Linked DNA regions of Homo sapiens. The protein of the gene in region 2 interacts with the protein of the main gene of each other region in a biochemical or structural test. Each region holds a gene or a part of one and is shown on either strand. Other genes may lie near its edges. The genes, in order: RPS6KB1, POLDIP3 and RPS6KA1.

What was found.
Region 1: of the proteins of POLDIP3 (region 2) and RPS6KB1, one has a biochemical effect on the other in vitro, tested with the Homo sapiens proteins (one study listed by BioGRID).
Region 3: the proteins of POLDIP3 (region 2) and RPS6KA1 form a complex in vitro, tested with the Homo sapiens proteins (one study listed by BioGRID).

The regions. Positions count from the first base shown.
Region 1 is NC_000017.11:59,895,997-59,899,644, reverse strand, and holds part of RPS6KB1 (ribosomal protein S6 kinase beta-1), read right to left. Parts: intron 1-3,648. UniProt on the Homo sapiens protein: Serine/threonine-protein kinase that acts downstream of mTOR signaling in response to growth factors and nutrients to promote cell proliferation, cell growth and cell cycle progression.
Region 2 is NC_000022.11:42,594,299-42,597,946, forward strand, and holds part of POLDIP3 (polymerase delta-interacting protein 3), read right to left. Parts: intron 2,068-3,648; coding exon 1,888-2,067; intron 1,317-1,887; coding exon 1,239-1,316; intron 1-1,238. UniProt on the Homo sapiens protein: Is involved in regulation of translation. Is preferentially associated with CBC-bound spliced mRNA-protein complexes during the pioneer round of mRNA translation. Contributes to enhanced translational efficiency of spliced over nonspliced mRNAs.
Region 3 is NC_000001.11:26,546,615-26,550,262, forward strand, and holds part of RPS6KA1 (ribosomal protein S6 kinase alpha-1), read left to right. Parts: intron 1-252; coding exon 253-369; intron 370-574; coding exon 575-656; intron 657-3,648. UniProt on the Homo sapiens protein: Serine/threonine-protein kinase that acts downstream of ERK (MAPK1/ERK2 and MAPK3/ERK1) signaling and mediates mitogenic and stress-induced activation of the transcription factors CREB1, ETV1/ER81 and NR4A1/NUR77, regulates translation through RPS6 and EIF4B phosphorylation, and mediates cellular proliferation, survival, and differentiation by modulating mTOR signaling and repressing pro-apoptotic function of BAD and DAPK1.

The DNA.
Region 1 (3,648 bases), on a different chromosome or scaffold from region 2:
AAGGTTTTTTTTGTCTTTGTTGCTCTACGTAATCGCCTAGGATGGCTTCACTTTTATGACAAAAGACTAACTTCTTCCAGATGTGATAAAACTGGTATTACATAATTGTTTTTTCTTTAATGTTAGTTTTACTTAATTCTAAATTAAAGACTACAGAGTAGTTAAGACTGGACCATGATTTTGAAGCCACCTCACAAGATACGCCCTGTAGCTATGTTTCATTTCCTAAGCTGGCCAGACCTATAATGCTGGCACCTGCATATTGTGCTAATAACTTCTACCGTTACTGTCTAGGACAGAAGCATTTGAGGCACAAATCTTTCCTGCTACTCAGTGTTACCTCTAGAAGGCTCACACAAGAAGTGTCAAATAACATTATGTAATACATACTGACAACTCTCTTTCACAGGAAACTCTTTACTCCTTTTTTTTTTTTTTCTGAGACGAAGTCTTGCTCTTGTCCCCCAGGCTGGAGAACAATGGCGCGATCTTGGCTCACTGCAACCTCTGCCTCCCAGGTTCAAGTGATTCTCCTGCCTCAGCCTCCCGAGTAGCTGGGATTACAGGTGCCTGACACCAGGCCCGGCTAATTTTTGTATTTTTAATAGAGACGGGGTTTTCACCATGTTGGCCAGGCTGGTCTCGAACCCCTGACCTCAGGTGATCTGCCCACCTTGGCCTCCCAAAGTGCTGGGATTACAGGCATGAGCCACCCCGCCTGGCCAGGAAACTCTTTACTCCTAATTTTTTTCTGCTGCCTTAAGCTTTATGGCCTATCCAATGTCTGCTGTGTTCATTAGGATTGACAAGATTCAGTAACTTAGAGGAAATGGAAGAAAGGGTAGAACTTTGCCTAAACTCTTGGGCTATTTAAAAATAGTTGCTGCTGGCCGGGCACGGTGGCTCATGCCTGTAATCCCAGCACTTTGGGAGGCCGAGGCAGGTGTATCGCCTGAAGTCAAGAGTTTGAGACCAGCCTGGCCAACATGGTGAAACCCCGTCTCTACCAAAAAAATACAAAAAATTAGCTGGGTGTGGTAGTCGGCACCTGTAATCCCAGCTACTCGGGAGGCTGAGGCAGGAGAATAGCTTGAACCCAGGAGGCAGAGGTTGCAGTGAGCCGAGATCGCACCACTGCACTCCAGCCTGGGCCACAAGAGCAAAACTCCGTCTCAAAAAAATAAAAAATAAAAAAAAGTTGCTGCTTTATAGTAAGTATATATTACAAAGCAAGATAAGTATTGATATTTTTTCTATAATTTTTCATAATCATGAATATTTGAGTATATACTATCTATATAGCACTTTGGTTTTCAAAAATTTTAAACCTTTTACTCAATAAAAATCTGATGTCCCAATCTGAAACTTGTACAGTAAGCCTGCGTGATTATTTCAAATTTTGAATTAGAGTACAAAGTGAGAATTTTTTAAATTGCATTACAGTTTTCTACTACTCTTAATGCTATAGAGAGCAGAGAAGATTCCAACATTTTTGCAATCTAAATTCTCTGAAGGAAAACTTTTCCTTAGTTTCAATTTACTGCCCCAAATGATATCATCAACAGTGAAACAAAAAAACAAACAAAAAAGACACCCTCCGCCCAAAAACTCCCCTCTTACCAATAGGCTTTGATTATATTCCTCTGAGATATTTAAACAGAATCTTTTTTTTTTTTTTTTGAGACGGAATCTCACTGTGTCGCCCAGGCTGGAGTGCAGTGGTATGATCTTGGCTCACTGCAACCTCCACCTCCCAGGTTCAAGAGATTCTCCTGCCTCAGCCTCCTGAATAGCTGGGACTAGAGGTGTGCACCACCATGCCTGGCTAATTTTTGTATTTTTAGTAGAAACTGGGTTTCACCATATTGGCCAGGCTGGTCTCCTGCTCCTGACATCGTGATCCACCTGCCTCGGCCTCCCAAAGTGCTGGGATTACAGGCATGAGCCACTGTGCCCGGCCTTAAACAGGATCTTTTTTAAGTTAGGTGGCAGATATTCAACTTTGTCCATAAATGTATCATTTAGTCTCATCTTTTAATCTCTAATTAAATAAACTATGGAAATACCTATATTTACTAACGCATAGTCACTCTGTAACGTACCTTGAAAGGCACATCTCTCTAAACGGGATCAATTAGTTTTAAAAAAAAATACACACTATGATACTACAGTTGTAAAAATACAGCACCTCGAGTTTAACTGCAATTATTAAGTCTCTAGGTATACGAGGTTAAACCTGAATGATTGGTTCCTTAGCAATGACAAGACAAGCTGAATTTCTGTGAACTAGCTAATTGCTTAATACGCCAGGATATTTTGAGAGTACTGTACTTTACGTACTTATTTAATGTAACCCTCATGTTATAGAAAACATTAGAGATTAAGGAATTTACTCCAGGTCACAGAGTGAGTATGGCCAAAGGAATCTGAATTCACTTTTGACATACCACAAAGAGGAACATTATAAACACAACTAGTAAATGCAATGAAGAACCTGTGCAATGAAGCCTGCTGAATTAAGTCAGAAGACACTACCACTATGTGATCTTTGGCTATCATATGGCCTATGCCTCAGTTTCCTTACTATAAAATGAGGAAAACTGATATGCACCAATGTTTAAAAACTTTGTGTAATAAATTAAAGTCTATAAATTCACAAATAGAAACTATCAGAAGATTTTCTAAGAATCTAAACTTCTCTCATTTTCCAGAATTTTTTTTTTTTTTTATTTCAGGGTAATCTGGATGTCACCGAATCTCCTTGGATTGTCAACCCAATCGTACTCCAAATCTTCCATTATCCATCTTGAGGCACCTCTTAGAAAAAATAACACACTAAAAAGAAATATTTTCAACTCCAAAAAGTGTTGCTAAGACATATTTTACAGAAGTCTCTTCCTCAAAATCCTCTTTAATTGCCTTTGCTCTTTCCCCAGACTTTCTCTCCCCAAAATCGGGGCCATATTTCTTTCTCTTTCCTATTTCCACCAATTTTTCTGACCTCCTCCTCACACCTTCTCAAAATCCTACTTGCTTGTACCCAGCAGGACAAAAGCCCTGGAACACCTACTGTTCTTGAAACACAAGAAAGTGAAAAGAAAAGTCCCAGTTTACACAGGAATTTTAACAGAGTACTGTACTTTCAAAAAAGAATAAACCTGGCTGGGTGCGGTGGCTCACACCTGTATTTTGAGAGGCCAAGGCAGGCAGATCACCCAAGTTTGGAAGTTCCGGACCAGCCTGACCAACATGGAGAAACCCCGTCTCTACTAAAAATACAAAAATTAGCCGGGCCTGGTGGCGGGTGCCTGTAATCCCAGCTACTCGGGAGGCTGAGGCAGGAGAATCGCTTGAACCCGGGAAGTGGAGGCTGCAGTGAGCCGAGATAGCGCCATTGCACTCCAGCCTGGGCAAATAGAGCAAGACTCTGTCTCAGAAAAGAAAAAAAAATAAAATAAAATAAACCCAGTCTGGAAATTCTATCAGTTCAACTAATGAAGATATAAAGCACCTTCCTATCCAGTTTTCTCCCCTGCCCTGCTCCAAAGCCACTGTCATAGAGAACCAACATAACTGATAAAGAGTATGGTATATGGTATAAATAATGAAAGTAATCTCATATTTGTTTCCAATTGTAACTAGTGTACC
Region 2 (3,648 bases):
TCACGAGTTCGAGACCAGCCTGGCCAACATGGTGAAACCCTGCCTCTACTGAAAATACAAAAATTAGCCAGGCGTAGTGGCAGGCGCCTCTAATCCCAGCTACTCGGGAGGCTGAGGCAGGAGAATTGCTAGAGCCTGGGAGGCAGAGGTTGCAGTGAACCGAGATCACACCATTACACTCTAGCTTGGGTGACAGAGTGAGACTCCATCTCAAAAACAAAACAAAACAAAACAAAAAGATTTAACAAATGTAGTGACCAGTGCAGTCTGTTAGTCTGGGACTTAACTGCAGGGAGAGGCTGGATTCTCCAAACGTATTCATTTTGTGATCTGACAGTTCAAAGGATGCCTGGATTTCTAAACTAATGGCTCTTTTGGGTGCCTGAATGAAAATGATGTTGAAAAGAAGTCCTAGCTGCATCCAGAACCCCGCTCACAGACATTTGACAGGTTTTGCCCATGACTGCCATGGGTGGGACGGGATGGACCAGGAAGGTGGATACCACCAATCCATCTCACTTCTTTCACTTTGGAATCATCTTGTAATACCTCCAAAGGACACAGGAAAACACAACTATTGGATACTGCCCAGTGGGACTAAAGGATCCCATTTAGGACCCATTATAGCATAGATATCCCCTGACTCTGAGATTCAGGCCAGGCACCTGGCCTTGGCTAGAAGCTGTGCAGAAGAGTGAAGCAGCTGGGCTGACTGCTATTGTTTGAAAGGTCCGATTCCAGGGGTGGCCCTTGGCTGGCATCTGAGAACTCGGATCTCAGGAGGGCTCCTGCCACCCCACAGTTCACTGTGCCTGGACTGTGCAAACAACATGGTTTCTGCTCAACAGCTGCTTTCCCTCTGGGAGTCTGGAATTTTAGTACATGCTACACAGAGAATGCCGAAGTGACCAGCCCCCAGTAAAACCTTTGGGTACTGAGTCTTTAATGAGCTTCCCTGGTGTCACATGTATTGTCACAACTTGCTGCGAGTTGCACCCAGCATCCTGTGCGACTCTGCTGGGAGGGGCCTCTGGAGGCTTGTGCCTCGTTTCCCCCCGACTTCACCCCATGAGCCATTTGCTCTGCATCCTTTTGCTGTCATTAGTCTCAGCCCTGAGCGTGACTATATGCTGAGTCTGGTGAGTCCTAGCAGTCATCAAACCTGAGGGTGGGTCTTAAGAGACCTTTGCCACAGAGGCAGTTTGAGATTTAAATGTTTGGTAGGTCACAGTACTTACAACAATGTCCTCCTCAGTGACTCGAGGGTGCAGATTATTCACAGTCATCTTGGTGCCTTCCAATGGGCTGAGAACAGGCTGCCACACAGACAAGAGCATTACCAGAAGCCAGATGGCTGATAAGCATTCCCACAACAGAAATTCCTCCAGGCACGTGACTAGGAAGGCCCAGAGGAAAGCTCCATGGAGAGTTACCACAAATGGGCCCCCTGAACTTCAGTGTCCACTACACCCCCCATCACTCTATGCTAAAAGCATGGACCCTCTCCCATCTCCCAAATACGCAAGCCTCTCAGGCCCTGAGCCTCTACCTGGAAGGCTACTCATGCTTCCAGACCCACTCAGCTAAAAGAGCCCTTTTTCCCAGACTTCCCAACTGGAATGAGATAATCTGTCCTCAGCCCTCCTAATAGCTTTCTTCTGAGAGAGTCTAACATATCACCAGATACCGCAATCTCTCAGCAGGTCTGCCGTCCCCACTAGCCTGCAAGGTCTTTGAGGGTAAGAGTCCCTAGGTCTTGGTTTGCTCATCTGTAGAATGGGGGTGGCAATGCCCACCTCACAAAGGCGTTGTGGGGAACACAATGAGGTACATATAAGCATACAGCCCTCCTGACCCCAACTGCTGCAGTCACCACCATCACCTCACCTCAGCAGCTGGCAGCTCTTTGGGGGGTTCTTCCTTGTTCACCAGTGTCCGGGACATGTTGGTCAAGGCTTTTGTTCGAATAGAGGAAGGGAGAGCAGGAGCTGTGTATGCATCATTCTGAACCACTTTGGTGAGAGGGAGGGCCTTGGACATGGAAAGCTTGGAACTGCTTAGCCCAGCCTAAACGAAGAGACAGAAAAGAATCTGAGAAGCCAGACCTGCAATGTTCTGAAGAAGCCCCAAGAGGTTGACAACTTGCTGAGAGCATGAACCCTCGATGCCTCCCAGCTCTCTAATTCTATTAGAGGTCTGGAGCCAAAAAGGCTGCCGGCTGCCAGTGACATCCCATAGGGAAGGGGCAGGGGGAGAGAAAAACACACAGCCTGAACGCGCACTCACAGAAGCCACTCCCCACAGTGCTAGAAGCTCTTGGCAGGAAGCTTCCATACAGCCCTGACCTGGAAAATTACCCAGGAGCCACAGGCTCACCCACACCACTTAGACTTTCTAAAAATTCTACAATATGAGGCTGGTCAGAAGGCCAAAAGCTTGGCCAGGCATAGTGGATCACATCTGCCATCCCAGCACTTTGGGAGGCTGAGGTGAGAGGACTGCTTGAGGCCAGGAGTTCAAGACCAACCTGGGCAACACAGTGAGACCTCATCTCTATAAAAAATGTAAAAGAGCTGCTCTGCCTGTGGAGTAGCCATTCTTTTATTCCTTTGTTTTCTTAATAAAGCTGCTTTTGCTTACAAAAAAAAAAATTAAAAGGCCAAAAGCTTGAGGCCAAGTTCATTCCCAGATATGCTTCTATCACAATGTGCTGATCACCACTCTTAAGAAGGCCCAGAATTCAGTGTTTTGGTTCCTCTTCTGGCCATCCAGAGGAACCACACACAGCCTTGGCCTCATCAGCTCCGACTGTCAGGGACACTCGGGCATTTGGCAGTGCAGATCACCAAAAACAGCCCCTCCATCTGGATGTGGTCCCTTGGAAACAAAACTCCCCTGTATTAATGTGTCTGAGGAAAAAGGTGCATAAAGCAGAAGTGACGGGGGCCCTGCTGATTTAGGGCAGTGTTTACAGGCACTGACCCAGGGCAGGGAGAAAGGAGGAACGCAGCGGCCAGAGAGGCACATCAGAGCATGGGCACGGGCAATTCACCACGCTCCTCCAAGTCTGGGTGAAGCAGCGTCATCCCCATGCTGAATTCCACATTCCTCATGTGGAATTCTGCGTCTCCAGAGCTGGGACAGCACAGTGACTCCACACAGGGCCCTGAGAGCGAGACTGCTCGGGCTCCATTCCTAGATCCACTGCTTCTCATCAGCTGGGTGATGTTGAACAGGCTTATTTCACCTCTCCATGCCTGTCCCTCATCCATCAACGAGGGTAATCAACAGTACCCATCTCACAGGGTACAAGACGCATGAGTATAAATATGGCATTTATTCAATTAGGGTATCAAATAGGGATAGAGACTCACTGAGCAAGCTGATAGTTCCCTTGATAGCAGACTTGAGCAGTCTAATTACTGGAAAGGCCTGGTCCCTTTGTAAAGAAACAAACTGGCATCATTCAGCTTCACGACCTCTTTTTTTTTTTTTTTTTTGAGACGGAGTCTCGCCCTGTCACCCAGGCTGGAGTGCAGTGGCGCAATCTTGGCTCACTGCAACCTCCACCTCGGGGTTCAAACAATTCTCCTGCCTCAGCCTCCCGAGCAGCTGGGATTACAGGCACGCGCCATCATGCCCAGCTAA
Region 3 (3,648 bases), on a different chromosome or scaffold from region 2:
CTGGGCATCCCTTTGGGCCTAACCAGGCCAGAGCATCGTGAGCAATAGGAGCGGTGCCTGTTCTGGTTTGACCTCCCCAGACTTTGAGGCTCTTTTGAAATCGATGACCCTGGAGGCTAGCCCTTCAGGGAAGTCGTCTATTGGGCCTTTAGGTTCCATCTGCTGTGGTCTGGTGGGAATGGACTTGGGCAGGGGAGCCTCCTGCTGCCTGGATGGGGCCCACCATGCCCACCAGCTCTGTCCCTCCATCAGGATGAGGGCGTCCTCAAGGAGATCTCCATCACGCACCACGTCAAGGCTGGCTCTGAGAAGGCTGATCCATCCCATTTCGAGCTCCTCAAGGTTCTGGGCCAGGGATCCTTTGGCAAAGTGAGTCATGAGCCCATAGCTGTGAAGGCAACACTCGTCATGTTAGAGGTGGGGGTCAAGGGTCACCTAGGGGCCCAAAGGATCAGAGGTCACCTTGGTACCCAGGGAGAGCAAAAAGGTCAGCTTGGGGCTCAGAGAAGATAGAGGTCAGCCTGGACTCAGACCTCTCCCATCTTCTGCCCTGCTTCCTGCTCTGCCTTCTCAGGTCTTCCTGGTGCGGAAAGTCACCCGGCCTGACAGTGGGCACCTGTATGCTATGAAGGTGCTGAAGAAGGCAACGCTGAAAGGTGAGTGGGGACACCTCCCTGTGCAGAACCCAGGCTTGGCTGAGGGAGGCAGCCCAGACTTCAAGGGCCTTGGGTCTGGCAAGGGAGACAGCTCTGTCTTCAGGAGCACCTAGTTCAAAGGTGGAGAAACAGGCCTATTTCTCAGCTATCCCTCGCCAGCCAATCCTCCTCCCCCTAAGCCAAGTGCTAGTGACTGGCTGTGAAGGTCTGGAAGGTGGTAATAGGGTAAATGCAATGTGTTTGTCAGGGGGCGGGGCCCTCAACTACCAAGCTGGTCAAGCAGAGGCATTCTGACTGTTGATGCTAGAAGAGTCTGGGGGAGACCTCTGTGGCCCCTAACTCAGGGGCCTGAGAGAAGGGCGTGAGTGAAGAGGCAGGGAGCCCAGGGAGGCAGCTGGGCTAGGCAAGAGAGGGTGAGTCCAGGCAGGGCCACAGAGCTGGATGGCAGAGAGGTTCAGAAGGGAGCCCCGAGCCAAGGTTAGAGTTCTGGGGACTTACAAAGGGTGTGAAGATGGTTGGTAGTGGGCTTTGGGTTGGATACTGACCACTTGGCCTGGGAACCAGTGTGACCACTGACCCGGCAGAGTCATAGCCAAGTCTCTCTTTAAATAAGTCAAGGCCGGGCGCGGTGGCTCACACCTGTAATCCCAGCACTTTGGGAGGCTGAGGTGGGCGGGTCATTTGAGGTCAGGAGTTCAAGACCTGACCAACATGTTGAAACCCCGTCTCTACTAAAAATACAAAGAAATGAGCTGGGTGTGGTGGTGTGCACCTCTGATCCCAGTCAGAGCCAAATCCTAGCTGGGGAGGTAGTGGGGGCAGTAGGAGGCGTCAGCCTTAAGGACGTTATGGGTGGCTTTGGTATCCTAAGGCCAGCCTGGTGGGTGTGGAAGTCATCCCCCAGGAGGTATGGTGGCAGCTTCAGAGGGAGGAGAAAGATGAAAAGCCTGGGTCCCTGCTGTGAAGGGCTCACAGGCTGGGCAGGAGAGGCTAAGCATACCCGACAGTGTGGTGCAGCCGGTGCTGTGACTGGTGTGCGTGGATATCCGACGCGCTGGGGAGCTGGGAGTGGTGGTGTAGTCTTGTAGAGGGTGGGCCCAGAGGCCAAGGGGACACCTAAGGAGCGGGAAGCCTTGGAGGATGAGTGGATTTCTCTAGACCAAAAATGTTTGAGGAAGGGGACCCTGGGAAGGAGAAACTGTTTGCCTGAACTAAAGTGTAGAGGTGGTTTGAAAATGTAAGGTAAGCTGGGTGCTGTGGCTCATACCTGTAATCCTAGCACTTTGGAAAGCTGAGGCGAGTGGATCACTTGAGGTCAAGAGTTCGAGACCAGCCTGGCCAACATGGGAAAACCCCATCTCTACTAAAATACAAAAATTATCTGGGTATGCTGGTATGCACACCTATAGTCCCAGCTACTCAGGAGGTTGAGGCACAAGAATTGCTTGAACCCAGGAGGTGGAGATTGCAGTGAGCCGAGATCGCGCCACCATACTCCAGCCTGGGCGATGAGAGCGAAACTCCATCTCAGAAAAAAAAAAAAAGAAAAAAGAAAATGTAAGGTGACCAAAATAGTTAACTCCGGTGTGGTCCTTGTCATGTCTAATGAGGAAAACACAAAAATTAAAACAGAAGAAGGGGACCAGCTCCTGCAGCCCTGTGTGCTGACATAGAAGGTGTGTTGGAAGGCAGCTGCAGCTTCTACTTGTAGCAAGGGCCAAGGATTGTGTCCTGAACAAGACTCCGGAAAGACATGCAGGAGGAGTACATTGGCCAGATCTCCTAAGATAAGCAGCTGTGAGCATCAATTCTGGAATGGCAGTGACGAATGAATAGAATTCATACTAGATGGATGGACTAGTGAAGGCTTTGGGACTATGAGGCTGGAGAGGAAACTGCCAATCCAGTACATGGACCAAAAAAGCCTTTAGTTTTGCATTGTGTGTATTGCTCAGACATTTTGTCTGGTCTTAGTAAGCACTCCCTAGCCTTCCACCTCTCCTTTTAATAAAAGTCAAGGCTGGGTGCGGTGGCTCATGCCTGTAATCCCAGCACTTTGGGAGGCCAAGGTGGGTGGATCATTTGAGGTCAGGAGCTCAAGACCAGCCTGGCCAACATGGTGAAACCCTGTCTCTACTAAAAATACAAAAAAAATGAGCCAGGTTTGGTGTGTCTGTAATCCCAGCTACTCAGGAGGCTGAGGCACTAGAATCGCTTGAACCTGGGAGGCAAAGGTTGCAGTGAGCCAAGATCACACCACTGCACTCCAGCTTGGGTGACAGAGTGAGACCCTGTCCCATTAAAAAAAAGTCAAAGGACACATGAGAGGTCTCAGTCAAGGGGTAATCAATATTGTGATAAACTTAGTTGAAACACACTGCCCAAAATGAACCTAGGCAGCCATGTCCAAAAGCCTGTTCTTTTTTTTTTTTTTTTTTTTTTCTTTCCCGAGATGGAGTCTCACTCTATCGCTCAGACTGGAGGGCAGTGGTGTGATCTCGGCTCACTGCAACCTCCGCTCCGCAGGTTCAGGCAATTCTCCTGCCTCAGCCTCCTGAGTAGCTGGGATTACAGGCACATGCCACCACGCCTGGCTAATTTTTGTATATATATTTTTTTCTTTTTTGAGACGGAGTTTCACTCTCGTTGCCCAGACTGGAGTGCAATGGTGCAATCTCGGCTCATCACAACCTCTGCCTCCCGGGTTCAAGTGATTCTCCTGCCTCGGCCTCACGAGTAACTGGGATTACAGGCCCACGCCACCACGCCTAGCTAATTTTGTATTTTTAGTAGAGACAGGGTTTCTCCATGTTGGTCAGGCTGGTCTCAAACTCCTGACTTCAGGTGATCCGCCTTCCTCAGCCTCCCAAAGTGCTAGTATTACAGGCATGAGCCACCACGCCTGGCCAATTTTTTTTTTTTTTTTTTTTTGAGGCAGAGTCTCACTCTGTCACCAGGCTGGAGTGCAGTGGCGTGATCTCGGCTCACTGCA